Linked DNA regions of Homo sapiens. The protein of the gene in region 1 interacts with the protein of each later gene in a biochemical or structural test. Each region holds a gene or a part of one and is shown in the gene's direction. Other genes may lie near its edges. The genes, in order: PDZD2, SLC34A1, SLC2A1, LPXN, GPRC6A, CNTNAP4 and ARVCF.

The links.
Region 2: the proteins of PDZD2 (region 1) and SLC34A1 interact in a test that uses a peptide from one of them, tested with the Homo sapiens proteins (one large-scale study listed by IntAct).
Region 3: the proteins of PDZD2 (region 1) and SLC2A1 interact in a test that uses a peptide from one of them, tested with the Homo sapiens proteins (one large-scale study listed by IntAct).
Region 4: the proteins of PDZD2 (region 1) and LPXN interact in a test that uses a peptide from one of them, tested with the Homo sapiens proteins (one large-scale study listed by IntAct).
Region 5: the proteins of PDZD2 (region 1) and GPRC6A interact in a test that uses a peptide from one of them, tested with the Homo sapiens proteins (one large-scale study listed by IntAct).
Region 6: the proteins of PDZD2 (region 1) and CNTNAP4 interact in a test that uses a peptide from one of them, tested with the Homo sapiens proteins (one large-scale study listed by IntAct).
Region 7: the proteins of PDZD2 (region 1) and ARVCF interact in a test that uses a peptide from one of them, tested with the Homo sapiens proteins (one large-scale study listed by IntAct).

What each region holds. Positions count from the first base shown.
Region 1 is NC_000005.10:31,641,483-31,645,976, forward strand, and holds part of PDZD2 (PDZ domain-containing protein 2), read left to right. Parts: intron 1-4,494.
Region 2 is NC_000005.10:177,396,891-177,400,342, forward strand, and holds the end of SLC34A1 (sodium-dependent phosphate transport protein 2A), read left to right. Parts: intron 1-59; coding exon 60-184; intron 185-892; coding exon 893-1,396; 3' UTR 1,397-1,958; downstream 1,959-3,452. Other genes in the region: PFN3 (profilin-3), read right to left, coding at 3,273-3,452.
Region 3 is NC_000001.11:42,927,869-42,931,368, reverse strand, and holds part of SLC2A1 (solute carrier family 2, facilitated glucose transporter member 1), read left to right. Parts: intron 1-162; coding exon 163-323; intron 324-502; coding exon 503-743; intron 744-1,333; coding exon 1,334-1,496; intron 1,497-1,588; coding exon 1,589-1,776; intron 1,777-2,054; coding exon 2,055-2,159; intron 2,160-2,335; coding exon 2,336-2,437; intron 2,438-3,500. UniProt on the Homo sapiens protein: Facilitative glucose transporter, which is responsible for constitutive or basal glucose uptake. Has a very broad substrate specificity; can transport a wide range of aldoses including both pentoses and hexoses.
Region 4 is NC_000011.10:58,544,435-58,548,928, reverse strand, and holds part of LPXN (leupaxin), read left to right. Parts: intron 1-4,494. UniProt on the Homo sapiens protein: Transcriptional coactivator for androgen receptor (AR) and serum response factor (SRF). Contributes to the regulation of cell adhesion, spreading and cell migration and acts as a negative regulator in integrin-mediated cell adhesion events.
Region 5 is NC_000006.12:116,800,985-116,805,478, reverse strand, and holds part of GPRC6A (G-protein coupled receptor family C group 6 member A isoform 1 precursor), read left to right. Parts: intron 1-4,494. UniProt on the Homo sapiens protein: Receptor activated by multiple ligands, including osteocalcin (BGLAP), basic amino acids, and various cations. Activated by amino acids with a preference for basic amino acids such as L-Lys, L-Arg and L-ornithine but also by small and polar amino acids.
Region 6 is NC_000016.10:76,283,282-76,287,775, forward strand, and holds part of CNTNAP4 (contactin-associated protein-like 4 isoform 1 precursor), read left to right. Parts: intron 1-4,494. UniProt on the Homo sapiens protein: Presynaptic protein involved in both dopaminergic synaptic transmission and GABAergic system, thereby participating in the structural maturation of inhibitory interneuron synapses.
Region 7 is NC_000022.11:20,006,454-20,010,947, reverse strand, and holds part of ARVCF (splicing regulator ARVCF), read left to right. Parts: intron 1-439; 5' UTR 440-493; intron 494-4,494. UniProt on the Homo sapiens protein: Contributes to the regulation of alternative splicing of pre-mRNAs.

The sequences.
Region 1 (4,494 bases):
GACTCAGAGGAACTAAGGACTCAGAGGAACTTAGTTCTCCAGATAGTAGGGAGATGTGTGAGATATTTTTTTTTTTTGAGACTGGGTCTCATTGTTGCCCAGACTCAAGCAATCCTCCCACCTCAGCCTCCTGAGTAACTGGGATCACAGGTGTGTGTTACCACAACCAGATAATTTTTGTGTTTTTTGTGGAGATGGGTTTCACCATGTTGCTTATGCTGGTCTCGAACTCCTGGGCTCAAGTGATCCTGGTGTCTTGGTCTCCCAACGTGCTGGAATTAGAGGCATGAGTCACTGCGCCCAACCTGGCCCCTCGTTCTGCTCCTACACAACCCTTTAGCACACTCACCATGCTGCCCTGGGTGTGTTTCTTTAGGGCCTTATTTTTTTCATACCCAGATAAGGCCTGGAACAGTTGCTAATCAACTTCCTCAGGTTAGACAGGAAAAGAGGCAGAGGGAACACCCCAGACCCCACTACCCCCGGCTGATCATACTGTAGGGTGTTGTGGAAACCCTCTCCCAGAGGCTCCAGGCCTGGTGAGCTGAACAAGATAACACAGAGCTGTGGATACCCCCTTGCCTTTGATCATGTGGGCCTAAGTGACTCGGACCATGGTGGTGGGGGCATCTCTGTTGGAAGGTCTCTCCTACTGCACCATCCACAAGGGGACAAATTCCAAAGATGAACCCACAAAAGGTCAGGAGCAAATCCAAAGAGAGGCTGAATCTCTTTAAGAAGACAGACTTAGAGACTCAAGTTTTCAGCTTCTTTCTTCTGCCCTCAGACACATCCCCGCAGCACCAGGGAGGATGCTGAGGTCAGAGTTGAGTTTCAAGGACAGGAAGAGCTATGCAGACAAGCCCATGAGAGAGGTTAGCAGACAAGTGGAGAGGCAGGGATGTCTCAGAGACGCCCATCCCCAGAAGGATGATAGGAAAAGGCCACTGATAGAACAGTGTCTGCAAGGGGTGTTCATGAAGCCAGGCTGCAAGGGAAGAAGGAGACAATGATTGCCAAGACAGTGAAACTGCAGGTATAGACACTGGATCCAGAAGTGTGCTGTTTGAAAATAATCCACAGTATTTTGAGGAGGTTGTAGCATTGAAGGAGGGTTTATTCATGAGAGTCCCTCCATTCTCCCTCCCAGGCATGTTTGGTAAACAAAAGAGATGTGGGAGAGAGTAGAGAAGCTAGATCAGGGGTGTTTGGGCTGGAAGAGGTGAGCAAGTGCAGGGAAAGAACAATCCTGGCATCTGCCTTCTCTGGAAGGCCAGAGGGAAGCAGAGGTTGGTGAGGCCCTGGAGAGAATGAGGAAAACAGGGGAGGCATTTGCTGAGACCTGGGGTCACTTCGTGAAGCTGGGGCCTGGAGGAAAGGGCTGCGGTACTGCTGCCTGCCAGGGGAAGCAAACCCGGCACCTGGCACCAGTGGAGGCAGCCAGGAGGGAAAGGAAGGACTCCTGAGTTGGGGTCAGAGGCTTTGGCTGGAATCCTAGCAGTGCAGAGAACTTCCTGCTGGGCCAGATGATTAGAAATGTTGAAGCCTCCATTTGCTCATGTATAAAATTGATGCAGTCGCTACTTCACAGGGTTGTTCTTAGGAGGAATCGAAAGAGGTACTAAGGTGTGTTTGGAAGGCCCTCCATGACCGCATCTGCTGTATAGGGGGTCCTTTCGAACAGTGTGTCCAGAAATGCATAAACCTCTCACCAAAGTCAGTGAGAGCCCAGTGGAATGGAGAAGGCAGGAGTTTTTAGCAGACTTGCCTGAAGCTTTCTTTCAGCTGTGGATGAAAAGTTTTGGACTACTCTGAGCAGTTGGGTCTCCCTGTTTGCACCTTGACAAATCCTTCAAGATTTCTGCCTTTTAATCCATTGGCTTGTTGCAGTGCTGCGTCTAAATTTAATGTCCCTCTCTTTTGCAAAGATCCAGTTACCAGGTGCAAGGCAGGAAGAGGCTGGACAGTCTCCTCTGTCCTCCATGGTTTGGAAGGGCATCATGCACTCACACTCGGTAACACCTGCATTTGAGGAAGCTAAGGCCCAGAAAAACAGAGAACTTGCCCCATTAGACAACCAGAACTAGAGTCACAAAACACAGTTGCTTGATCTGGGGAACTCTTGTCTTTCAATAGCAGTGGTGTTGGCCAAGATGCAGGTGGCTGAGGAAGAATTAAAAATCTGCAATCCCCCTTGGTTTTATTAATGGGTCTTTGATTATAGTTGAAAAGATGAAAAAACAGTCTCACTTATTAGTGAAGCGGGAAAGAAAAGGAGCATTTGACTTACTAAACACTAAGTAGATATGTGCCAAATTAAATGAAATTGGGGAAAATGTGAATAATTTTTTTTTTTTTTGAGACAGGGTCTCACTCTGTCACCCAGGCTGCAGTGGCATGACCACGGCTCACAGCAGCCTTGACCTCCCCGGCTCCAGTGATCCTTCCACCTCAGCCTCCCAAGTAGCTGGGAAGCTGGGACTACAGACACCACCGCACCTGGCTAATTTATTATTTTTTAAAAATTTTTTGTAGAGATGGGGTTTTACCATGTTGCCCAGGCTGGTATCAAACTCCTGGGCTCAAGCGATCCACCCACCTCAGCCTCCCAAAGTGCTGGGATTATAGGCATTGAAGAATGTTTTTTAAGGAAATTAAAGTATAGAATTATCTGGAAAATTTTCTGAAATTATTCCTTATTTTCCAACCGGATGGTCTATGTCTAGATTTGGACCTATGCATCGGTTGCATATAAAAGGATAGATCTTTTTATGGTATCTAGAAATTTGACAATCTTGATCTCCTATTATCCATACTTTAGAAATAGAGAAAAGATGGAATTGGAAAAGAATACATTTCCCATGGGTTCTAGCGGGGAGTGTTTGAAGCCAGGTAGGTCATCTGATTCAGTCTGATTGTCTGAGAGCTAAAGAGTTCTGCCTTCTATTTACAAATGTGTTCAAGAAGACACTGGGAGCATTTACAATTTGAAAACTTAATAGTTGAAGAGGCCTTTTGTGGTCTGATAAGGCGGCTGAGCCGAGAGATGGTTTGTTAAGACACTAAGCATGCGGAGAAGACACATTTGTCTTTTAAGCCTCTCCAGCTCCAGGAAGAGGCCTACCCCCGGCCGTGGCTTCTCTCCAATGCCAGTAGTGTGTTCACCCCACACTCTTGATGGGGCCAGCAAACAGTCTCCATTCTGAAAGTTCTGGCTGCTCCATGCATGCATTCCCTACCAGAATGCGTTCTGAGTGAATAATGAGTGGTCTATGAACTTCCAGAAAATCAGAAACTTAAGATTCTCAACTCTCTTTATGAAGCCATTGAATGAAACCAGATAGCATTGAACACCTGGTTGACAAAGTTATTCTTGGATTATATGTTTTTATATACAGTGTTTCTGGGGCTCATCAAGCCCTCTAGGTAGGAGGCCTGAAGAGGTTTTGGAGAAGCAGCATTGGGGGAACCGACTTCACAGCACAGAGGATTAATTTTGCACACACAATTGTTGCGAGCTCTGAATGAAATAATAGCAAGGAGATGGGGGAAGTTTTGTTGTCTTTTAAGTCTAAGAAGCAGCCTGAAATGCCTAGATATCCACAGGAGGATTTAAAAAATCACAAATTCTTAAGGATCTGCAAGTCCTTGAAAGGGCATTATCCAATCTCTTGCCTTCAGGGAGGAATAAACTTAGCTCATTCCAGTTAAGGATCTATGGTTTTAACAGCTTCCTGAGGAAGGGGCGTCCATGGCATATTTGGCCCTTAACACAGTGATGCCCCAGACTGGTTCTTTGAGGTGTTTTAGCAGGAGTCGAAATGGATTTCAGAGGGGTTACTCTTGGTCTCTTTTTTTTTTTTTTTTTTTTTGAGACGGAGTCTTGCTCTGTCGCCCTGCCTGGAGTGCAGTGGCGCGATCTTGGCTCACTGCAACCTCTGCCTCCCAGGTTCAAGTGATTCTCCTCCCTCAGCCTCCTGAGTAGCTGGGACTACAGGTGCGTGCCACCACACCCAGCTAATTTTTGTATTTTTAGTAGAGACGTGGTTTCACCATGTTGGCCAGGATGGTCTTGATCTCTTGATCTTGTGATCCGCCTGCCTTGGCCTCCCGAGGTGCTGAGATTACAGGCGTGAGCCGCTGTGCCCGGCTGGTCTCATTTTTACCAACACTTGGACACCTCTAGTACTTGGCTTTACAAGCCCTAGACTTTATCATCCAAGTTAACACAACAGACCCTGTTGTCCTGGCCTCAGGACAGCCATCATCCTGCTTGGCTAAAAATAAAGGCAGCACTCATATAGTGTAGAATTAGTATTCCTACCGTGAGCAGGGGCACGCTTTGTGCTGTGGCTACCCCAAAGTCAATTCCCTGGCTGGGACCTGCCAGCTCAGGCAGTGGGAGTTGTACTGGGAGGAGGGTGGGAGAGATGGTAAGTTTGGATCTCAGTGTACTCAGTAGGGGGAAGGGGGTGGGGAACTGGGCTGCCTTAC
Region 2 (3,452 bases), about 150 Mb from region 1:
GGCAGGGAAAGGGCCGAAGGAGACGCTGGGGGTCCCACTTCCTCTCCCTCTGTCCCCAGGTCTTGGTGTGATCAGCATTGAGAGGGCCTACCCGCTCACACTGGGTTCCAACATCGGCACCACCACCACGGCCATCCTGGCTGCCCTGGCCAGCCCCAGGGAGAAGCTGTCCAGCGCTTTCCAGGTGCGCTGGGAGTGTAGCCTCGCCTGGGGCAGGATGGAGCTGCCTCTGGGGTGTGGGGCCTCACAAAGGTGTGACAACATGGAACAAATATTTTGACTGCCTACTAAGGGCCACCTAATATGCTCAATGAAACCATTATGGGCAAAGTAGACCCAATACCACCCTCGAGACCTTAGCATCTAATAGGGAGACACTGCTCATAATTACACCAATAAATAGCAGTGAGTCGGATTTGCACCATAAGGAAGAGGAAGAGGAAGAGGCACTACAAAAGAGGGCCTGGAGCAGTTTGGGGAATCCATTGCGGGGGTCAAGGCCGCAAATGGCAAAGGGGAATTATTCTAGGAGCAAAGGAGTAACTGACAAGCCAAGGCACTGACTGAATGAGGGTCCAGAAACTGACATCAATCCTTTAGCTGCTGGATTTTGGCAGTATCTGCTGGGGGATTCCTGTGCGAGGGGTCAGTGGGGAAAATGTGGGGAGCTCAGGGCAGTAGTTATTTACCAACTGGTCTAGAAGTATTTCAATATTTGCATAGCCAGCATAGCCACCTCGGGGTGATCTCGGGGCAGGGGGCACATCACCCCTAAGTGGAAACTTTCCTGCTGCCCAGACCAGATCGGGGTTCCTATCATCTACCCCTGCTGGCCTGACACAGGACCTGGGAGCCAGTGCCCATCTCAGCCCCTCTGCCTCATCCCCTGCAGATTGCCCTCTGTCACTTCTTCTTCAACATCTCGGGTATCCTTCTGTGGTACCCGGTGCCCTGCACACGCCTGCCCATCCGCATGGCCAAGGCGCTGGGGAAACGCACGGCCAAGTACCGCTGGTTTGCCGTCCTCTATCTCCTTGTCTGCTTCCTGCTGCTGCCCTCACTGGTGTTTGGCATCTCCATGGCAGGCTGGCAGGTCATGGTAGGTGTGGGCACGCCCTTCGGGGCCCTGCTGGCCTTCGTGGTGCTCATCAATGTCCTGCAGAGTCGGAGTCCCGGGCACCTGCCCAAGTGGTTACAGACATGGGACTTCCTGCCTCGCTGGATGCACTCCCTGAAGCCCCTGGACCACCTCATCACCCGCGCCACCCTATGCTGTGCCAGGCCTGAGCCCCGCTCACCCCCGCTGCCCCCCAGGGTCTTCCTGGAGGAGCTACCCCCTGCCACACCCTCCCCCCGTCTTGCACTGCCTGCTCACCACAATGCCACCCGCCTCTAGGCTGTGGGCCCAGACTACAGCCTGGAATGGGGAAGGCCTGGGGTGGAAAGGCAGGGGAGGGAGGGTGTGTGTAGGTATGTGCATGTGCCTGTGCCACCCTGGGTGCCAGTCTCTCCTTCTGTAGCTCCGCAAAGCTCTGGGCTTGTGTGAGAGTGTCGGTGTGTGTGCATGTGTGGGGGTGAGTCTGCATGTGCACCTGTCATGTGTAGAAGCTTGTATTTGTGTACAGGTGTGCCAGCCCATGCAGGTGTACACAGACACACCTGTGGGAGGCTGTGTGCAGGCTGCAGGATATCTGGGTATGATTTCAGGTCCTCTGCACGTGTACACATGACTAGGATAGGCAGGAGTAAGGGTGGGTCTGGGTATATGACTGTGCAGCTGTTTGTGCATAGATGTTGGTGCCTGCGTTACTGAATTTGCACACCTCCTTGCCACCTTCCTTCCTCCAAGATACCATCTCCTCATCCTAACCCAGGTCTTCGGCACCACCACAATTAATTCCCTTCCCAACACTTGCCTGATGGAAAAAAAACAAAGGAATTAAAACTCTCCTCAGGCATTCGGAAGTCTTTTTGCTCTCCATCAATGGCAAAGGGAAGACCAAGCCAGGGGGTTCAGCAGCACCATCTCCCCTCAAAGACTGGCTGCAAGAGCAGCCTGCCCTGCCCAGGCCAGGTGCAGTTCCAGAGAAGCCAGCCCTGCAGGCTCACCCCAACCATCTGCCTGGCCCTACCTTAGTGAGTCCAAACCACAATTCAAACTCCCTGGAAGCCCCTCCTAGGCCTGGGGCCACCCCCAAGGCAAGTGTAAGGAGGATTCTGCACCCCCACCCCCTGACCCCCACCTGGCTGAACTTCCTCTGGTCTCCCTCTGCCCTCTAAATTCACCCACCTCAGCCACACATCACTCCTTCCTGCTGGGATAAGATCAGGGCTCCAGAATAAGTGACAGGTGGGGTCTGCCATCAGGGCCGCTGGGGGAGGGGACGGGAAGGGTGGGGGTGGGCAAGAGAGGCCATGCCCTGGGCCCCAGCACATGGAGGGCAGGGACCAGACACCCTCCCTCCCACTTTTGTCCACTATCTTTGGGCAATAAACCAGGCCTCAAACTTACCCAAGCTTTTCAATTCCCCCTCCTCCATAGGTCACCCTGAAACTGAGGCCTGCAGAGTGAGACTCCCGGGTAGGGATGCCAGAGTTCCTCCCTCTAGTCCAGGGACTCCTGCGGGGCCTTTTCGAAGGCCTGGGGAAGGCAGGATGTAAGGTCTCAAACCCAATTGCGATGGTCTTGGACATGAGCCCTCTCAGTAGGCTCCCCTTGGAGGAATGTGGGCAGAGATGCAGAGGCCTGTGAGCCCCAGAACTGCTTTACAAGCCACCAAGCCCATCCTGTCACCCACTCACAACTTGCTAGTGCTTGAGGTATGAGTGGAGGGGGGAGGAGCAAATTGGCCTCCAGCCTGACACCCTGATGGGGAGAGGTGTTCGCGGGATGGGGAGGGGGCTCCCTTTACTTGTCCTGCCTAATGTGTGGGAATATCTCTGAGAAAGGACGCTAAGGCTGAAACAGACTTTGAGAAGCCCCCACCCTTGGACTCTTCCTCAGCTGCGGAGTCCCTAGGACCCTGGGAACGCGCCAAGGAGCAGCAGTCAGGCCAGGAGCCTCTGCAAGGCGTCCATGGGAGAGCAGGGTGTAGGGCACAGGGGCCTGGCAGCCTCTAGACTCAAAATCCCGGCTCCACCAGGTAACCGTCTTGCAAAGACCAGTTTCCTTATTTACAACTCCCCCCACCGCGCAAGTGGAGGAGGAGCCAGCCGCGCCCAGGTCACAGTTTATTTGGCCCGCGCTACCAGTGGGCGGCCTGGCTGGCCGGCTAGGCGCCCTGCATGCGCAGCCCGCGTATGAGTTCGTGCACCGTCTTGTTGAGGATGCCCCCATGTACGCCGCGTCGGCCCATTAGCACCAGGAGCGCGCGCGGCGCACGGCCCACGCACACGGCGCGCGCGTCCAGCCCCTTGGTGCGTGCGTCCAGCACGCCGTCACCCTCGGCCAG
Region 3 (3,500 bases), on another chromosome or scaffold:
TGAGGCCCACAAAAATAGAGGGACTTGGCTCAAGAACATGCAGTGAATCTGTGGCAGAGCCAGGCCCTGGCCCTCTCTTAGGGAGGGGTGCAAGGGGAAAGGAAAAGGAAGACTGGGTCCTGGCCCCTGGCTTGCTCACCCAGGCTGCATCTCCCCCTGCAGGTGATCGAGGAGTTCTACAACCAGACATGGGTCCACCGCTATGGGGAGAGCATCCTGCCCACCACGCTCACCACGCTCTGGTCCCTCTCAGTGGCCATCTTTTCTGTTGGGGGCATGATTGGCTCCTTCTCTGTGGGCCTTTTCGTTAACCGCTTTGGCCGGTAAGTAGGAGAGGTCCTGGCACTGCCCTTGGAGGGCCCATGCCCTCCTGCCCAGGGAGTCCCAGATGGGGTGGGAGGTAGGGGAGACTTATCTGCCTGTTCCAGGGTATTACCTCTGACCCAGCCCCTCGGAGCCCAAGGAATGTGGGCACTGGCCTGACCTGTGACCCCGTCCCCAGGCGGAATTCAATGCTGATGATGAACCTGCTGGCCTTCGTGTCCGCCGTGCTCATGGGCTTCTCGAAACTGGGCAAGTCCTTTGAGATGCTGATCCTGGGCCGCTTCATCATCGGTGTGTACTGCGGCCTGACCACAGGCTTCGTGCCCATGTATGTGGGTGAAGTGTCACCCACAGCCCTTCGTGGGGCCCTGGGCACCCTGCACCAGCTGGGCATCGTCGTCGGCATCCTCATCGCCCAGGTAAGCTGGGGCAGGATCTACCTGCCTGGCACGGCCCCTGCCCACAGCTTCAGTGGCTCTCGGATCTGTGCCCAGCAGGGCAGAGTTTCTCTTCCGCCCAGCCCCCACAGCCTTGCAGAGGACAACTATGGTACACAGGTCCAGAGAACACAGCACCATGGCCTCCCAGTTGACAGCAAGATGACTTGACTCTTCTCAGTCCCTTTCTTCTCACTCTAGGCTTCCAACCACAGGGCCCGCCTTCCCCCAACATGCCGCAGGCTGTTATGCACAGTACCCTCTCTCCAGGAGGCTTCCCCTTCCCTGTCCCCAAAACCCTCTTGTGGCAGAGTAGCAGCCCCCATTCTCTGTGCTGGACACATCTGTGGCCTTGTCATTTGTCCTCCCAGCAACACTGTGGGGTAGGTCCTACTTTTCCCATGTGACCGATGAGGAAACTGAGAAACAGGGCTCATGCTAGTGGCAGAGCCTCTAGAACTGGGGCCCTTCCCTGAAGCAGCAGCTGACACAAAGTAGGGAAGGCCACTCTGGCAGGACGGGGTGGGAAAGGGGGTCAGGGCAGAGGCGCTCACGGCCCCTGCTTCCCCCAGGTGTTCGGCCTGGACTCCATCATGGGCAACAAGGACCTGTGGCCCCTGCTGCTGAGCATCATCTTCATCCCGGCCCTGCTGCAGTGCATCGTGCTGCCCTTCTGCCCCGAGAGTCCCCGCTTCCTGCTCATCAACCGCAACGAGGAGAACCGGGCCAAGAGTGGTACGGGCATGGCCCTGCCCTCCTCCCCACTCCCTGAGCCCTGGCCTTCTTCCCACTCTGAGCCACCCTCACCTTCCCTCCGGTCCCCCCAGTGCTAAAGAAGCTGCGCGGGACAGCTGACGTGACCCATGACCTGCAGGAGATGAAGGAAGAGAGTCGGCAGATGATGCGGGAGAAGAAGGTCACCATCCTGGAGCTGTTCCGCTCCCCCGCCTACCGCCAGCCCATCCTCATCGCTGTGGTGCTGCAGCTGTCCCAGCAGCTGTCTGGCATCAACGCTGTGAGTGCCCCCACCCACCCTTCCTGTGCCCCAGCCAAGCCCTCTGGTCAAGTGTGCATGGTGAACAAGTCCCAAACTTGAAACAACAGATACGCCTCTGCCGAAGAAGTTTCCCTTTAGACCCCAAGCCCGTAAGGTCACTGCAGTGCAGTGTCCCTTCTGCCTGAGTATTTGTCCCCTTCATTCTTTACTCATCCTGGGTCCCACATCCACTGCTACAGAGGCAGGGAAGGGCCACAATGTCCAGGTAGGCCCCAACAGTTTCTCTTGTCTGGCAGGTCTTCTATTACTCCACGAGCATCTTCGAGAAGGCGGGGGTGCAGCAGCCTGTGTATGCCACCATTGGCTCCGGTATCGTCAACACGGCCTTCACTGTCGTGTCGGTGAGTCTTTGCTTACTGGCCCCCCCAGCCAAACCCCAGGGAGGAGGCAGTGCCATCTTCCCCACTGGTCTTTGCAGTGCCCTGTGACTTTCTCAGCTCTTGAGGCAAGGCCTCTGGGTGGGTGGGTTCAGAAGGGCACTAGGCAGGGGTGGCACTGACACTGTCTCTGCCCACAGCTGTTTGTGGTGGAGCGAGCAGGCCGGCGGACCCTGCACCTCATAGGCCTCGCTGGCATGGCGGGTTGTGCCATACTCATGACCATCGCGCTAGCACTGCTGGTGAGTTGCTAGGTTCTGGAGAGTGAGGGATGCGGGAGAGTTTGCCTGGGCTTCATATCCCAAAATGCCTGTCTCAGCCCCAGGCTGGCAGGCCTTTTGGTGGCTGCATTCTCCCTGGCTGTGGGTCTGACTTTCTGGCTCCTGAAGTTGTCTCCTTCCAAACCACACACATCCTCTCTTGAACTTGCTCCTCCCTGCTTGATGGATTCTCAGCGCAGCACCTCTGGTCCCAGACCCCAAACTCTCACCTCCTTAAGGAATTGCTTTGCCTAATATTAACCCTTTCCAATCTTCATCTGTAGCCTCAATTCATCTTCACAGCAACCCCGGGAAGTAGTGCTGTCCTCCCCATAGAGGCGCAGAAACATGCCTTGCCTCATTCAGTTCACACGACTGGAGGTGTAGTTCAGTTCTTCCCATTTTATGGGGGAGGAAGCTTAAGTCCCAGTGAGGTTAGTAACTTGTCAGATAAAGGATGAAGCCAGGAATCAACCTCAGTCCCAGGCCTGTGACTGTGACCGCTGTGCTAACCCTGTGCCTGGCACTCACACACAGGCACTCGTTTATTTAGCCTCTGGGCAAGGAAAGCACCATGACTGTCATTTTACAGCTCAACCTGGGCTTGGAAAGTTTGGTGGTTGCCGAAAGGCCAGACAGGCAGCAAGTGGAAAGCCCATAAATTTTCTACCCTGGCCTCCTCAAGAATGGTTATATGCAGAACCGTATGCTTAGCGCTTACTCTGTGCCAGCCTGAGCTGGGCACCTCACACGCCTTAGAACCTGAATCCACCCCACCCCCAGGAATGTTCTGCATCCTGCCACAGGCGGACTGTGCTGCAGGCACAGACAGGGGACCATGGGGCCTCTTAGCACCGTCCACATGCACACCACATTACCACTCCCAGCGGGTGGACTCAACACTTGCAGCCACCCTGCAGGACTTAAATCATTTTGTTCGGATGAGGAAACTTAGGCCCAATGCTGGATACACAACAAATCCAGGACCATCCCCAGGCTTCCTGCCTTCTCGCATAGCTCTGCTCTGGCCTCTGTAGCTTCTGTT
Region 4 (4,494 bases), on another chromosome or scaffold:
GTTAGATCAGTATTAAGTGTGCATATGTTGACAATCATAGAATACTGCTCACAAGTAAGCCATGTAGCAAACTGACTACACTAGAGTCTGGATTTTAGAGTCAGACTTCCAGGTTCAAATCTGGGTTGTGGTATTTGTTCAAGTCATTTAACATCTCTGTACCTTACTTTCCTCATCAGTAAAATAGTCCTAATGAAATTGCCTACCTTATAGGGTTGTTATGAGGATTTAGAGACAATACAAGCGTGGTATTTAGAATAGTGCCAAGCACATGGAGGTATAGTAGTGTTAATATTATTATCACAGTGTCCTTTTGGTATAAATTCATTTTTTTCTAAAGTTAACATTTGAATCCTTTTTGAAATTGGCTTAGTTTTTATTGTACTTATCACTAAGTTATGCAACAGAACTGTGAAATTCTTTTCAAAATGGCCAACTACATCTGGCAACAAGTCAGTTTCTTTCTTTTCTTTTTTTTTTTTCTGGAGATATCCCTCCAGGAGACTTTCCTCCTCCTGATTCAACATGAAATGATTTCTTCCTGCTGAGTAGCAGTCATTCTGGTTCATTAACTTAGAATTATATCTAGTAATTACTCTTGGAAATTCCTTTTATTAGTTTCCTCTTTGGATGCTCTGTTTCCTGGGTCCCATGTCTATGTTTTATACATGTTACCACCTTTATTTTGGTGGGGAACATCCCCTAGTAGCTTTCTGAGAAAGAATTTTTGAGAACTTGAATATCTGAAAATATTTTTATTCTGTCATTGCCCTTAAGTTGCCTGGGCATAGAATTCTAAGTGGAAACTATTTTCCTTCATAATTCTGAAGACATTGCTTCACTGTCTTCTAGCTTCCATGATTGGCAAGTTTTTATTAAATTTTTTTTATCCTTGATCCTTTCTACATGACCCATTCTTCCCCCTTTGTATGTTTGTTTCATGTGTTTTCTGAATTGTCTTGTTTTTTTTAATTTCTCCTTTTTATGTTTGTTTTGAACAAATATGGAATCAGAAAGCTGCTTTACTTTGTTTTTCTCCTGTCCTTTTAGAATGAACTCAGTGGGGAAGGATTTCTCCTCTCATAAATAAAAGCTTGTGCAGTCCTCTGTCTTTTCTGATTACTGTTAAAAAACAGTTCTAAATATAAAATCAATTTAAGAAACAAAACACAAAAACTAAGCCATTAGGTAATTCAGTCTGTGTAATAGTTAAGGCTTCCAGCACTTTAAAAGTGACAGCCACTCCCTCTCTTTTTTAGGACCTTCAAGCTGCAGGAGGCGAGGACAGGGGTATGGCCTTTCCTCTCTCCTGACCTCGCTTTGTTATCTACCACCCTCACCCTTATTGCCAGCCTTGACACCTGCCTGCTCTAGGGTTGAAACACTAGGGAGGATGGAGATGAGAATAGAAGGCAGGAAGGTCTAACTTGTCTAGGATTGTTGTTAAATTGGCTTTATGCTCTCCAGGCTCAGCCAGTGTTTAGCTCTGACTTTTTTCCCTGAATTCTTTTCGGGATTAAGACAGGTCCAGCAGTGAACTCTTGATTGCCCTTTACGTGTCTTGACTAGCTATTCTCTCCTTGTCATGTTTCTTTGAGGATTTGTTTTGTAAAGATTCTTTTTTCAAGGGGCTTTCATTGTTCCCTCCTAGTGAACCCTTAGAAATTATTAACATCGTTCCAGATAATCTCTTCCTCTCATATTTTCATAGAAGGACCATGGATAACTTACTCTTTTCTCTGACAGCCAGTGGAGTTATAATTTTTAGCTGCATGTTTCTATTCAGCTGCCATAGGCTCTTTCAGCCAGACTCATCTATGGACTTTTTCCAGGGGTAACTCTGATACCACTAACTGCATCTCACTAATGCCAAGGCACACATATCCAACTCTCTGAGTCGTCCCAGTGAAGTCCCTCTTTTAACCTGAGGTTATCAAGAACTATACCTCATCTTTCTTGGTGGTGATGGGGCACTCATAGCACAGTTTTCTTCAAAGGAATCCTTCTCTCAGTTTTCCTTTTTCTTTACCTGTTTTCTCCTGAACAAGAGTGAGGAATTCCAGAATTGTACAAGTAATCTTTGACTACCTGTTTGGAGGGATGTTTTGCAGTTCAATTTGGAATTTGATATATATTACATCTTGGTGCCTTACATTTGTTTACACTGGTCTTTCCCAATACTGCTGATCCATGGTTGTCTGTTACTATTTAAGAATGAGACACTAAAATGCTAATTGCAAACTCCATGGATATAGACAGAAATTGTTGACTGGTAGACTTGACTATATGGTACTCAGGTAAGATACTCTGGCCATTTTGTTGAGTGACTCCTGAATATGACAATCTTAGGTCTTTTCTGTTGAGTCAATTATGCTAAAGAGATGTTCTCTTTGCCAGAATTCTGAGATTGAAAAAGGGGATGGGGGAATGGGCTTTTCACCATTCAGCATGTCAACTTTTACTTAATTCCCATTTTTCAGTAGAGAGCTTGACTCGTTTCCTCATGGTGTCCAACATCTCTGATCACTGAGACTCTCTTGTTCAATATTTACAGAAATAATCATTGCATCTTACGGTAAGATAAGGCATCTAACTTTCTAATGGTTCTTTAGACTTTCAACCAGTCCTGTTTCTAGCCTTGAAGAGTATCTCATGCATTCAGTTCCTGAGCCCCTCTGATGTTATCATATTCAAGATGGCTTGATTTTTATTGGCCTCTCCCATCTGTGGAGACGTAAGTTCCAGTTTTCTTATTTATGTTAAGCCAGGTACCACTCTTAAAATCTACTTTAAATTCTTGAAAATTTAGTTAATATCTCATCTGGTGGCATATCCTTTACTTTTTTCTCTTTCCTTATGGCTCTTTATAATTTACATAATTTCTTAACTGTCATGTTAATGATGTTTCAGGAGGGAGTAAAGAAAATCCCATGTGTTTAGGCCCTTTTACTAATATGGAGACTTTCCTAAATATCAGGCATATTATTATGTATATGGTTAAAAATAATTTATATGATGCCATCACAGTCTGTGAGAGCAAGTTTATTCAACATTTTACCTAGTTATAGATGAGTCTCAGGTAGGTAAAGTGATTTTCTTAAAGTCACACAGTTAGAAAGTTGAAGAGGCAAGATTTCAACTTGGGTATCATTTCTGCAAGTTCCATGTTTTTTATAAAACATCACAACTGCCTTTTGACTGAAATTCAATTCCTCTTCGGCTGTTGGATCTCTTTACTTTTGTGGTACCAACACGATATGCTTTATTTGACAATAGACCCAGATACAGTGGTGCTGACAGAATCCACTAGCAAAGTGCTCTGTAGTAATTTGCTTGTTCACTGGAGCTTGCTCAATGCTTTTTCACAAATCATTAGGTATTTCATTTCTAGATGGTATTTTACCTAAGCAGCATTTTTCATTGACACTTAATCCAAATCATCTTAAATTGTGTCACAATAAATTTATATTGTACTGGTAGCCATAAAAGTCTGAGAATTAGTTGAGTACAACAGTCAACAAGTGAATACTGCCTATGGATCATTATGATGGAGAAGTTGCCTGAAAGCAGAACAACAGGACATAGGCACATTTCAGGTAGAGACATAAGTTAGATACACACACAAAAAAATACCCAATCCATAGGATGACCAGAAAGCACCATTAAGGTAGCTAGTTCTCATTTTCTTGACTCAGGCCCCTTCTAAACAGACAGGGCTGATGGGGTCATTTATGGCTTTATATAAACAGGAAACAACACTTAAAACATATTTATACATAGAGCCACATGACAAAAAGTGACATTTATTGATCAGAAGCTCCACTTGGGTTGTATTTTCCTTTTTATGCCTGGCTTTCTGTAAAAAGGTCTCCTGCCATATGATCAGTTCATTAATTAGGTGTCATCCTGCCTCACCCCAAGTTAGATAGTCACAAAGAGTTTCTATAATGACAGTTTAACCTCTGAGCCTCCTGGGAAATTAAATTCATCTGCATTTTTTCATCAGTCCAAAGAATTCCTCTTTAAGGCTCAAGTCATTGGTCCTTGGCATCCTCCCACAGGGATGAGCTCTTCAATGTCTACCTGTGTTTCTTTTTAATTGTTCATTATCCAGGTCATGCAGGTGCTCCCTAATTTCCCCTGTGGCTAAGAGCCTCACCAGAGTATAAACACTCTCCCTCTTTTTGTGGCACTTTTAATTGTCAGTATTTCTCATTCTTCCTCTAGAGGTAATTGGTCCCAAAGAGATCCTCCAAGAAAGCAAGAGCTGAAACTTTCTTAATTTATTAGATTATGAAATGCAGGGGTATCACAGCAAGTTTGGGTGATTGCTTTTGATTTCTTTCCTGAGATTTACCCAAGTTGAAACAGAGGCTGTTACTCCCCTGCTATCCCACTCTCGAAACCAGCTGTCCAGCAGATGCCTAGATGAGGGTCATTTCTCAGATAGTTGGCATGTCTTACAGTTTTCTCAAGTAATGCCTACCTATAGGC
Region 5 (4,494 bases), on another chromosome or scaffold:
ATATATAAGTTTTAAATTTGTAAGAGAAAAGAAGGTAAAAGAAATGAGACAATTCTTCTGATCATACAAGTGGGTATCTAGAACAAGTTTTTTCTACTTTTGTCATTTTTTTTTTTACTTTAAACACCCAAAACTACCATATTCGAGGTCTGATATGACCAGTTAACATTTGGGAGGATCATGCAATGGTGGGAGGGTATTTTAAATTGCTCACTTTTAAACTACTTTTCACCTTATGAATACAAAGCCAAAAATCTAATAAGGAGGTAAAACTAGAGATTAGGACCTTTTCTCAATTGCAAACACTCTTTTAATATATATATAGTTATGTCTGATGACTTTAAGACACCTATATGAAAGCATTCTCTTTGTAGTATAAAACTTTAATGATGGTGGTAAAAACCATAAATTATCTTTTTTAGATCATCATTATTCACTATATTCCAAGTTCAGTACAATGTTTTCTAATATATTTCAAGGCTTTTGGCCTGGTGCACTGCAGAAAAACTGTTTTAATTTTTAAAATTAGACTACAGTAATAATACCACCACATAGAATTTTAGAAATAAGAGATTGAGAAAGAGAAATAGAGAACAGTTGTGGAGACAGATGACATAAAGTGGAGCGGGGGATGGTTATATAAAGAACCTCATAAGGACAAAGAAATGCAAATAGCAAGAGTTATTCACCCCCTGAAGATCTGGGGAAAAATAGAGAAAGTATTTTAAATTAGGAATAAGTCTCAAACACTTCAAGGATAAGATTTGAGAAGAAATTATCTAAGCAGAGTCTCCTAAAATGTTTTATTTAAACACTAGGAGCCTGGAGTCATTCTTTTTGCCCTCAGAGCCTGTTAATCTAGAAACAAACAGAAACAGATTAGAAAGGAAGAACAGGGGGATGACTTGCTCCTTTGATCAAGACGTGAGTGAGCCACATCAAGTCAGTGCTAGAGTCAGTAAGACAAACAATACAAAGAGTTATCCTTTTATAAAGAAATCTCTGTAGACTTAAACTTTAAAGATCAGCAACATTTAGGGTCCCTAGTCAATGATACATTCTTAAGGATTACTTTGTACCCTAGCAAAATTCACTAATATTTAAATAGCACTTTCTAAATGATTTTAGATGCAAATAATTTTAAAGGGGTTAATTTTTCCCAGTGTTTGAGGATAGCACTTATTTTGGCCCTATATGTGGTCATATTTGTGAGCCATACTCAGGGACACCACAGTCGTGCTTGTTTTACTTCAGCAGATTTTTAATGTTCCTCAGATGTGTGTGGAGGATACCACCTCCTTGCTGTGACTAGAGATTTCGGTTTTTTTGTTTGTTTGTTTTCCTTTACTTCTGATGATATATAAGGTAGTAAGTGATGTATGAGAAAAGAAAGAATGCCTAATAGTTGAACTTCTATTCATATATTTATTTAGCAAATGTTTGGTGTCTCAATGTTTCAGGCAGTGTGTTGAGTGGTGAAGATATTACGGAGAACAGGACAGAATTCCTTCCCTAAAGGAATTATCTGTCCATTGATATATACAATCAAACAAGTAAGGGGCTGATTACAATGAAGGATGGTACACTACAGTGTTTCACATAAACACAAGATGGCAGAGAAGTACATAAGTGAGACAGCTAATCCAGTATTAACAATTCAGAGAACATTCTCCAAAAAACATGACCTCTATGTGAATGCAAGGAAGGGTAGCAGTTAGCCAGAACAGAAATATTCCAGCAAAGTCCCAGAAAAGGGAGAAAAGAAAGCACAGCATCTTTAGGAAGCAGGAAATCATGGCATATGACTGGAGTCTTGCATGAGAGCTGTAATGGACTAACTGAATGAGTGAGTGAAAGACATATTATTAGAGCCTTGTCCATCAGGGCATCTCAAACTTTGATGTGCAGTTGACTTTCCTGGGAATCTTATTATCATGTTAATTCAGTGGTTCCACAGTGGGATTGAAAAGTCTACATTTTTAACAATGTCCCAGATGATGCTGATACTGCTAGTATAGAGACTCCCCCTTAAATGGAAATGTTGCAAACTATGTTCAAAGGTTTGAACTTGACAGAGGATAGGGCAGCTAATTAAAGACATTTTCAGGCAGAAGAGTGATATGATATTTTTTCCATCCAAGGTGAATTGATTAGAGGGACACAAGACTGAAGGAAGAAACACCAATTTGGTAAATCAGACATAAGATAAGAATGCCTACAGGTATGAAAATAAGGATGAAAAGATGTATATATGGATATTTAAGAGGGAGGATGAAGAATATTTGGAGATCAATTGGATGTAAATGATGACAGAGAGCATCAAAAATGTTGCAGATGATTCCAATATTGGACAACTGGTGTCATTTGTCAAGCTGGAAACATAGAGAAAAGTGGAGGTCTGGTGGGAGTAAGAAATATTTAGCATTCCATTTTGGAGATGTTGAATTTGATGAATTTATGAGACATGTATTGTAAGTGTAGCAAGGTAGTTGCATATTAGTCCAGAAGTCAAGAGAGACATGAGAGTAATTTTGGCATGGTAAGATAATAGTAACTAATAATTTTTAAAACATATGGTTCTAGGTACTGATATACACCACCTCTAATCTTTATAAAATATGGTAGGCCGACAGGACTCATCTTCCTTAAATTCCATCTTGAAGAAGTAGTAAGAAGAAGTGTTTCTAGTGACCAAGACTTGTCAGAGTTTAGAGATGGAGGGAACCTTAACAGTAAAGACCTGTCCCGTGGTGATTCACACAGTTAGCAATGAAACTGCTGCCCCAGCCTTAGATCAATGTGTTTTCTGCTTCACAAAAGAAGGTATCGTCTGGGCATCAGGACACAGAGGCAAGGATGTTTCCTCTGCTCTTCTCTAACTTAGCCATGAAGATACCTCTTTCCACAGTAACCTTACTTAATGAGGTAGAGCAAGCATCAGCACAGTTAGGACAATGAAAAACAATATCAACCATATCACTTTAATTGGTGTGATTCCTGGCCATGTGTGCTTAAAAACTAGGCATTATCATACACAGGTGAATAAGATAATAATTGAAATGCAAATCCCATTCTCTAAATTTTGTAGTGTCAATTGATAGTGAATTTCAGAGTCTCCATGAAAATTTTTTTAAATGATATGAAAAAGCAGTTAACAGCTTAATAACTGGAGTGGTAATGTTTAAGATTAACCTTACTTCAAAGCAAATGTTTTATTATATTTAATGAGTAATGAAAATACTGTTGTATTTGCTTCCACCCTGTTTCCTGTAAGAGCAAGCATAAAATTGTGGAAGTTTATTTACATTATACAATTTTATGATTATTTACAGAACAAATACATGTGAGAACTTTAGCCTATAAAGCCTAATTAAGCACAGGAAAAAAGAGGTAGAAATTATAGTTCAAACACTTGTGTGGAAGAGGATGTGCTCCCTAAAGAACTGAGTTACTGGGGTTTACATGTGTATATTGCTTAAGGAAAGAACAGAAGAAACAAACCAGTCAACAGATAGAAGTGAGAACATTGGAGGTAGGCCCTTGCATATTCTTTTATTTTTGTTCTCTCCTCTTTTTTTTCTTCCAGGCAATTGCTAGAATAAAATTTTGTTAGTGAATTCCACCATGTTAGATCTGATATCCTGCTTCTTTAAAGTAACACTAATTAATTGATATTCATTAAAAGAGCTAAGACATCTGTGGGGACATAAATACACACACGTAGACATTCTGCTAAAGTAACATTTCTCATTGATGTTACCATCATAGCTAATCTATTTACTTGAAAATATAACTTATTTTTTATATTCTATTGACAAAAAATTGAAACACTCATAAAAAGTTAACTCAAAAGAAATAGAATAGAATAATTGTCTTCAAATAGAATAATTTCTGCCTTATTCTATAGATTTTATACCCAACAAAAGCCACACAGAACCATAGATTTAGATAATAAATGGGCCATTATGAAAGCATTCAGAGAGGATATTTACTTGACATACTTATATATTAAGTTAATGGTGAAGCCAGAACAGCAGCCTGTTTCCCTACATTCCAGCCTATTGTTCTTCCACTACAGCACAACCTCAGTATGGCTATCCCATTTGTAAACAAAATATTTTTTGTCCTAACTCTATAGTATACAAGCTCTCACTGTGCAAATTAGGTAGCAAGACAGGTAATTTATCCTTATATTTCTTTCTTCTCAAGTTAAAAAATAAATCATTTTGTGAATTAGCTTAGAAATATAATTTAGAGATCACTTTACTACATACTCAATCATTGAAACAAACTTAAGAACCATTGGAGATAATCAGATAGAAAGTAATTGTACTTGCATTGATGAGAGATGGAACCAGAGTTAGATCCCAGGTGTCTATACCAGGGGACCCATTCTAAAATTCTGTAGGATAAACGAAGATACTTAGAAACAACCATCTATAGAAATTAACTTGCTTTCCCAAATTTATATAGCAAAAGTTAGGCAGAAATGAG
Region 6 (4,494 bases), on another chromosome or scaffold:
TGAATCATATGACCTTTAGGTTGCCAATTAGTCCCAGGTTGTTTAAGAAATCGTTCTGTTATAAAGACACATGCACATGTATGTTCATTGCAGCACTCTTTACAATAGCAAAGACATGGAATCAACCTAAGTGCCCATTAGTGATAGACTGGATAAAGAAAACTGGTACATATACACCGTGGAATACTACGTAGTCACAAAATAGAATGAGATCACATACTTTGTAGTGCCATGGATGGTGCTGGAGACCACTATTCTTGGCAAACTAACAAGGGAACAGAAAACCAAATACTGCATGTTCTCACTTATAAGTGGGAGCTAAATGATGAGAACACATGGACACATAGAGGGAAACAACACACACTGGGGCTTTTTGGAGGATGGAGAGTGGGAGGAGAGAGAGAATAAGGAACAATAACTAATGGGTACTAGGCTTAATACCTGAGTGTTGAAATAATCTATACAACAAACCCCCATGACACAAGTTTACTTATGTAACAAACCTGCACTTGTACCCCTGAACTTAAAAAATAAAAGTTAAACAAACAAAAGAAGTCCTTCACTATCCTTTAAAAAATATTTTCATTTTGTTTTCACTGACTGAAAGTTTACAGAATGATCTAGCTCCTGAAAACAGTAGGAAGAGTAAGAAAAATGCATCCAACATTGTTATGTGCATGTTCAGATTGTTAGTTGAATATATCTGATGAAATATTAAATCATGCAGACTTTGACCTGATTGTCTTCCATGCTCTAGTGTTTCAATTATTATTTATAGCTTATTTTTCATTTTTATTCATTCAATAATTTTGACCTCAACTTTAGAATTTATCTATAATCATTGAAATTATATTTTTCAAATTAACTAGTATGATAGGGAAGGGTTGACCCATCACAGTGTATGTGCTTAAATAGGAGATGTTTCCTATATTGTTGCATGATGTTCCTATGTTGTGGGTGGTGGTGGCATGCAAATTCTTATAAAATGTATGGATGATTGTTTTCATGGGTATTTCAGTTAGGAATATTTAGGAATACTCTTTAACAGATTTTCAAGAACAGGTCTTGAGTTGTAGCATCAAATGCTAATATCAGTTTGATTTTGATCACTTTAAAAAGAAAAATCTCAGAAAGTGAAAGAAATGCCCCAAACCTCATGCAGACAAAAATTACAGAGTTTTGGAGACCCTGTGATTAACTGAAAACACTGAAATGAAGTAGTTTACCCAGAAGATTAACATTGGAATTGGAAGGATTCAGGGTTTTAAAAACAGGGTTTAAAATCTTAAGAAATAGTAGTTTACCCATAATTTTAAGTTACAACAAATTGTATCTCTAAATAACAAAAATGTCATTGACTGTTGAATTGTCTTCTTATATTTTTGGGGAAAATTTTGATGTCTAAGAGTTTAACACTTAAATTTCTTCCATGAGCTCTTAAGCTGTGATTGTCTGTGTATTGCAATTAAATATGCATGCCTGTATGTGTATGCATGCATTTATTTGACTTTTGAAACTGGCTTTCCTTGTTTTTAATCTATGATTTTTAGGCTCTCCAAAGTGCTGATTACTTCAGGGGGCTGATGGCTCTGTGTTGGTAAAGACCAATCTGACATATAATTGCACAAGCAAAGATACTTTTGTTTCTTAATTGACTTTTGGAGGACAAAGATTTTTTCCAAAACGTCTTTTGTTAGGGTCTTCATAGTTAGTTCATAGTTACTAACTACAGTTACATAGTTCTGTAGTTAGTGAAAAACTACAGAACTGTGTAATGATAAAGAATGTACATGCCAAACGCATTACAAGTTATCATTATTGCTTCAGTTTGCCCATGGAACATTGGTATTTGGAAGAGGAAGTGGATATGCTTGGGTGTTTTTTTTCCCCTCCTTCCAGTGAATTTTCATTATGGTTCATGGAAAAGTGGTACTCTAGTAATAAAACTGGGAAAATAGCATAACAGCAGGTAAAAATGAGCCTGTTTATGTTACAGTTAATGAGTCATTCCAATGTAATAATTGGAGAAGTGAGTGAAGCCTGAAAACATTTGACATTTTAAGTAGTTCAAAATTAGTAACTATAAAATTTTTTAATGCCATAAGTATTTAATAGAGCAGTGATGAAATTTATCTCCAAGGTTTTTAAATCACAACGGAAAAAAATGGTGTGATATTATCAGTTGGCCTATAGCTCTAATTGCTTTTTTTATTAAGTACCTCTCATTACTTGGCAGTGCTCTAGAATAAGATATTATGGGCTTCTAAATCGTAAAAGACATATTAGTTTCTGTAACCATTTTCTTCCCACTGGCAATTATGATACTTATAAATGGGGTCATAGGTTGATATTACTTTAAAAGCACCATGTAAATATATAAATTCACCTGCCTTCCTAAATTACGTTTATTGTATACTTTTTAGAAAAATTATAACCTGTAATTTCATTAATGGACTTACTCTGCAATTATGACCTACGGAAGTATTTTTTTCAATGTCCTTTGAATAAGGACACGGATAAACTCTCCTAGCAATTGGTTGTAAGCCTTAGGGTTGATAGTTGCTTGGATGACCTTGAACAGACATTTGATTCCCTTGGCCCACCACAGAGACCCCCACATTTTCCCATCAATATAAAGCAATTGCCTTTGCTATACCAGGCCCAATAGAGGGATTTCTTGGAAAATCTGAGAAAGTCAAATTTCTAGGCTAATAGCTTTGCTCTAAAAGAGTGCATGTAGATTTATATCTTTAAGACTTGTCTTCAGTATTCAAAGATACTATGTATTGGTATTTTAAAATCTGCTGGTCAGCTGACGACTGACCAAGGACAAAAAAGGAACTAGATTGAAAGTGGTCTTTAAGGGAAATGAGTTGCTGAGATAGAATTATCAGTGTGTGTGTGTGTGTGTGTGTGTGTGTGTGTGTGTGTGTGTGTGAAGATAACTGTGGGTGGGAATTGGAAAACAGACCATTTTGGTAGGGGAAATAGAAAGCATTGCCCCTAGGTGGCACATTTTGAATTAAATAGTGATGGGATGTAGAATAAGATTGCTTCATATTTGCTATCCATACCAGAGTAGTCTCCAGTATGCTTTTAAACCAGTATGTGGGATTAAAAATTAGCAAGAGGTCTTCTTGGCTCTAGTTTAAATTCACCCAAACAGAGAAGTGATATTACCCTTTTGCGATCTCAAAGATCTTTATTTTCTAGGACTCGGTGTAAAGACCTCAGGATCCCCAGTAGTTAACTCAACTTCTTCTCCCACCGTGGGTGCTAGTCTTTCTGAACCTAGCAATGAAGCAGAATATGTTGGGAGAGATTTTGGCTTAAAAATCACTAGATAAATTGAAGCATAATTTAACTCCTGAAGACAATGCGGTAAAGTGATACGGGTGGCAAGAGAAGGGCATGATAAACAAAGTTGAACATTTTTTCACATCTTTCACTTTTATCTCTCAATTTTGGCTGATTTTAAACAAAAAGAATTTATGTCCAAGGCAGAAAGCTGCAAGAATGCTTAGTGATCCTCATAATTAAGGATTTATAATACATATTTACATTTGCCATGTTTTAGATGTTTAGGACTTAATTAAAAGAACATTGCTAAAATAAAAGCAATTCTATCTAAATTGGTGATGAGGGAATTCTATGCAAGGTTGTAAAGCTGCTCAATTAGGCTCTTTTGTTTCATAGTGTGTATGATTTCTGTGCTTATTTGAACTGCTGTACTTTAACATGACAACTGTGTCACAATCCTGTTAAGAAAACTTCATGCTCACATACAGCTTCATAACACTACCTCTTAAGTATCAAAAGATGTAAGCTTTTCTAAAACAAATATACAAAAAATAGCAATAATTTGAGGAAAGAACTAGGGTACATTTAAGAAAGCAAAGAGCAAACACTGTAGATAACATTTAGTTTCTTAAACTCCTAGCATCCTTTATCACAAAATGAAACATGATAAAACAAAACATTTCATGGTCAAATACATACTAGGGGAATGGAAAAAGGAGGCTAATGTAGAATTTTAGCTACTAAAAATAAAATTGTGATCACCATAATTTGCTACGCTTAACACGCAAAACAGCCTGATTCATTTTTTTAACCTGTTCTCTTTGTAAATGATCACATTGGTTTCTTGGAAGCTTTGCTATGTGCTTGCCTGTGGGATAGTTTCTTTATATTTATGTATAATTGCAACATGAACCAGATTAGCATGAAAGTATGTAGGTAGTACCATTAATCACTGAAACATTCTCTAGAGAAGATGTCAGGAAGTTCTCTGTTTTTCTGAGTTAGCAAAATCGAGCCTCCTGTGATCATTTTCCTTTTTCATTTTCCTGGATATGAGGATGATCTGGCTGTGACATCTGTCGTGTTAGCGATGGCCAGGGTTGATTTGGCTGAGATGGCTGGTAAGGCAGCTGTTCCCTCTTCCTTCCTCACTGCTCCCTGTGACCCTGATTCACTCCATTTTATATCATACAA
Region 7 (4,494 bases), on another chromosome or scaffold:
ACGTGGCCTCGCCCACAAGGCGGGAGCGGACTCTAGGGAGGTGGAGCAGATGTCTTATGGGGCTGTGAGCACCTGCGTGGGGCAACAGGACCCTGAGCCTGGCTACCCTGGGGTGGGAATACTGCTGTGCTGTGTGTGATGGGGAAGACGTCATTATCAGTCCACATCTCTGAAGGATCACGTTTCTGAAGGATGGTCAACAGCATTAGACATGCTGACAAGGAACCGTGGCAGCCCAGTGTCACCTACAGTCCTGGACATGTGGGGGCAAGAAGGTACACATGAGTGTGTGGTTATGAGTCAGGAGCACCACGGGATGACCTTCAGATCAGGCATGACAAGGTCCTGCTTAGAGGACGGTCTGGGCTTGTGTACCTTTATCCGGCAGGGACCTACCCAGCTGGATTGACCTCACTCATGCCCTCTGGTTTCCCTGCAGGAGCCAGAGCCTGCAGGGTGGGTGTCGGGACATGCTGATCTTCCCTCAAGACAGGTGAGTGGCCTGGGTTTAGCTTGGGGACATCCTCTCCCACATAGGACAGCAGAGTGTTCTGGTGGGCCTGGCGGGTGGGGGTGACAGGGATGGACTGGCCCTGGACACTGTGTGCTCCTGGTCCTTCTCACCCTGGGTAGGCACAGCCCCTGGGCTGGACAGGGTGGATGTGAGGGCCTCCTGCCACCAGCTTGGGTTTGTTACTGGCCTGAATATGGGCAGCAGCCACTGGTTTGATGTCTGGCTTTAGGGACAAGCCTGTTTGGGGCTGGCTGACGAGGTTGCTGGTCAGTGTTGGTTTGGACATTCACTGGGTCTGCTCTTCACCTGCCTGAGCTAGGATGCCAGCCGCAGTGGCATCCAGTATTGGCACAGCCTGCTGGGCCAGGCCATTCGCTTGCCCCCCAGAGACTGGAGCCACAGGGACAGAGGATAGTCCTGGAGGCCAGGCACACAAAACTTTGTTTGAAAAGGTCTGATAGTAAGTAATTCAATTTTGCAGGCCTTATGGTCTCTGTCACAGCTGCAGTTCTCTGCCATTGTAGGATGAAAATGGCTGCAGACAGCCCATAACTGAATAGTCTGAATGTACTCTGATCACAGCCGTAGGCCATGTGTACTGGCCCGTGGCCTCAGGTGTTATCTGTGTTTGGGGTTCCTCTGCTTATCATGGCTGCTAGCTCCAGTGGGACTGAGGCATAGCGCCTGGGAAGCATGGCAGGGTTGGAGGCTGAGTGGTCCATGTCCCCCAGGACCCTCTGAAGGATGGTAAGGCATACCCTGCTCACATCCACGCTGCCAGAGTTTTGCCACGATGGGTGCTGTTCAGCAGAGTGGGTGATGGCTTAAGAGAATGGCTCCTGGCCATTCTTGTTCCTCCAGTCCCCACCCTGGCCATCTGCCTGTCCCCCCAAAAAGCAGTCTCTGTGGGAGGCATGGCTGACAGCCCTGTGGTTTCTCAGTGACAATTAGTGCCCATTGTGGAGGCATGGCCCAGCCAGTGCTGTGCCTAAGTGGTAGGGAGAAGGCCATGGCCTCCGGATGCCTGAGTGACCTAGGCTGAGGGATCTAGGGCAGATGGGAGGGACAGGATGACTGACTCCTTGCCTGTTCCCAAGTCCTTGGGCATGGAAAGCTGCCGGCCGGGCCAGCCTAGTGGGAGCTGGGTCTGCTGCCGCCTGGCTGTGTGGGAGGACCAGCGTCTGGCCGAGAATGTCACTGCTCAGGCCATTTGGCCATGCAGGGTCTTCTGGGTTGGGACAAAGAAGCTCAGGCAGGGTACTTGGCTTGCTTGTGGCACAGGTGACAGGGCATCTCAGGGTGGCAGGAGGGGCTGTCCCACTGCCCTTAACTCCTCGTAGGTCACCACACTTCAGGGAGGCCAGGTCAGCCAGACACCAAACGACAGCCCTGGTAACAGGGTCCGCAGGAGGGTGGTTGGCTGGGCAGGTCCGAGGCTGCCCAGGCACACTTGCTCACTCTCCCTCCTGTTGCTTGCTCCTTTCTTGTCCCTTCTTTTCCCTCCCCCCTCCAGTTCTTGGTCTTCTCTATGTTTCTCTGTGGCCCTCTCTGTGCCTCTTTCTCTGCCTTTCCCCATCTCCTATCCTGCCCATCTGGAATGTGGTGATTGCTTATTCCTGTCTGCTGTGGTGATTGGTTTTTCATGTCTGCCCTGGGCACTGGTGCGATGGGTGATGGCATTTGTGCCATCTCTGCTCTGGCTTGGGCAACCTGGGCTCTGGCTTGCGGCTGCCTGCTCTGCTGGGCCCTGGGGTGTGGTCCTGTCCACAGCGGGAGGCAGCTGGGGAGGGAGCCTCAGGGCTCAGCTGGGACAGGGGCTGATGTAAACACCCATGTGTCACCACACTCAGCACCCACTCACCCAGCCTCATGCTGGGTCCTGGGCATCACAGGCACATCAGGCCCAGCCCTGCCCCTGAGGAGCTCCCAGCCTGGTTGAGGAGATCCACAACACACAGAGGAACCAGTGGCCAACTGTGGGGTTACAAGATGGTGATGAGTAGCATGGCTCCCTTAGGAGGGGGAGCTGGGAGGGTGTGATGGGGTGGTGCGTGCTGAGACCAGGCCTGAGTGAGAAGGGCTGGCGGGGACACAGATGCCCTGCCGTTTCCCATAGCTGGCCAGCAGTGGTGTCCTCTCAGAGACCAGCACCAGCCTGGCCTCCTCCATCAGCCGCCGTGTGCCTGCAGGGGGTTGCGGCTTCGTCTCCTGCGGCCGCCTGGCCCCTATGACAGGCCTTCTCTTGGGTTTTGATGTGTTTCTCAGCCATTGTATGAGTCTTTGTATATTAAAGATATTAATTCTTCACTCCTCTTTCTGCCTACTGCACATTTTTCTCACCCTTTTAGTTTTTGTTTATGATCATTTTGATGTCAAAAATGTTTCATATTTTGTGGTGAAGTGTGTTGGATTTTTCCCCATTTTTAGATATTCCGTCTCTCTGTGTAGTCAACTCTCCCTAGCATGCAGCCAGATAAAGATGCACCTGTCTTTTCTTCTAGAAGGTATTTTTACTTTAGTTTTGTACACAGCATTTAATCTGTCTGTCTTAGTCCATTTTGGGCTGCTGTATCAGAATACCTGAGACTGGCTAATTCCTGAAAAACAAAGACTTATTTCTAACAATTTTGGAGATGGGGAAGTCCAGGATTGAGGGGCCACATCTGGCGAGGGCCTTCTTTGTCGCTACATCCCCCAGGAGGTGGCAGAAGGGCAGGAGCACACGTGAGAGAGCGCTGAAGGAGGCGGAACCCATCCTTTTATCAGTAACCTGCTCCCGAGATAACAAATCCACTCCCACTGTAACGGAATTAATCCATTCATGTAGCAGAGCCCTTGTGACCTAAACACCTCTTAGAGGTCCTACCTTCAACACTGTTGCGTTGGGAATTAAGTTTCCAACACGTGAACTTTGGGGGACACGTTCAGCCCATAGCACAAACTAGTATTTATTCTGATGTAAATGGACGGCAAGGATTTAACTTTGTTTTTACAGCTGCATCTGAACTGTTTCCTTTTTGTTTGTTTGTTTTGAGACGGAGTCTCGCTCTGTCACCCAGACTGGGGTGCAGTGGCGCATTCTTGGCTCACTGCAACCTTCACCTCCCACGTTCAAGCAATTCTCCTGCCTCAACCTCCCGAGTAGCTGGGATTACAGGTGCCTGCCACCATCACCAGCTAATTTTTAAATTTTTTTTTTTAATAGAGATGGGATTTCACCATGTCCAGGCTGGTGTCGAACTCCTGACCTCAGGTGATCCTCCCGCCTCGGCCTCCCAAAGTGCTGGGATTACAGGTGTGAGCCACCGCTCCCGGCCATGCCTGGCTAATTTTTGTATTTTTTGTACAGACAGGGTTGTGCCATGTTGCCCAGGTTGGTCTCGAACTTCTGGGCCCCAGCAATCCACTTGCCTTGGCCTCCCAAAGTGCTGGGATTACAGGTGTGAGCCACTGCACCCAGCCTTAAATTTTTACCTTTGATATACTATTTATTTCAAAAGGGTAGGCCAGGCGCGGTGGCTCATGCTTGTAATCCCAGCACTTTGGGAGGCTGAGGCAGGCAGATCACGAGGTCAAGAGATCAAGACCATCCTGGTCAACATGGTGAAACCCCGTCTCTACTAAAAATACAAAAATTAGCTAGGCATGGTGGCACGCGCCTGTAGTCCCAGCTACTCGGGAGGCTGAGGCAGGAGAATCACTTGAACCCAGGAGGCGGAAGTTGCAGTGAGCCGAGATCGCGCCACTGCACTCTAGCCTGGCGACAGGGCAAGACTCCGTCTCAAAAAATAAATAAATAAAAGGGTATTATGCAATTTCTTACTTATTATGTGAGGGAGCCTCTTTTTTTTTTTTGAGACAGAGTCACGCTCTACCGCCCAGGCTGGAGTGCAGTGGCGCGATCTCGGCTCACTGCAAGCTCCGCCTCCTGGGTTCACACCATTCTCCTGCCTCAGCCTCCCAAGTAGCTGGAACTACAG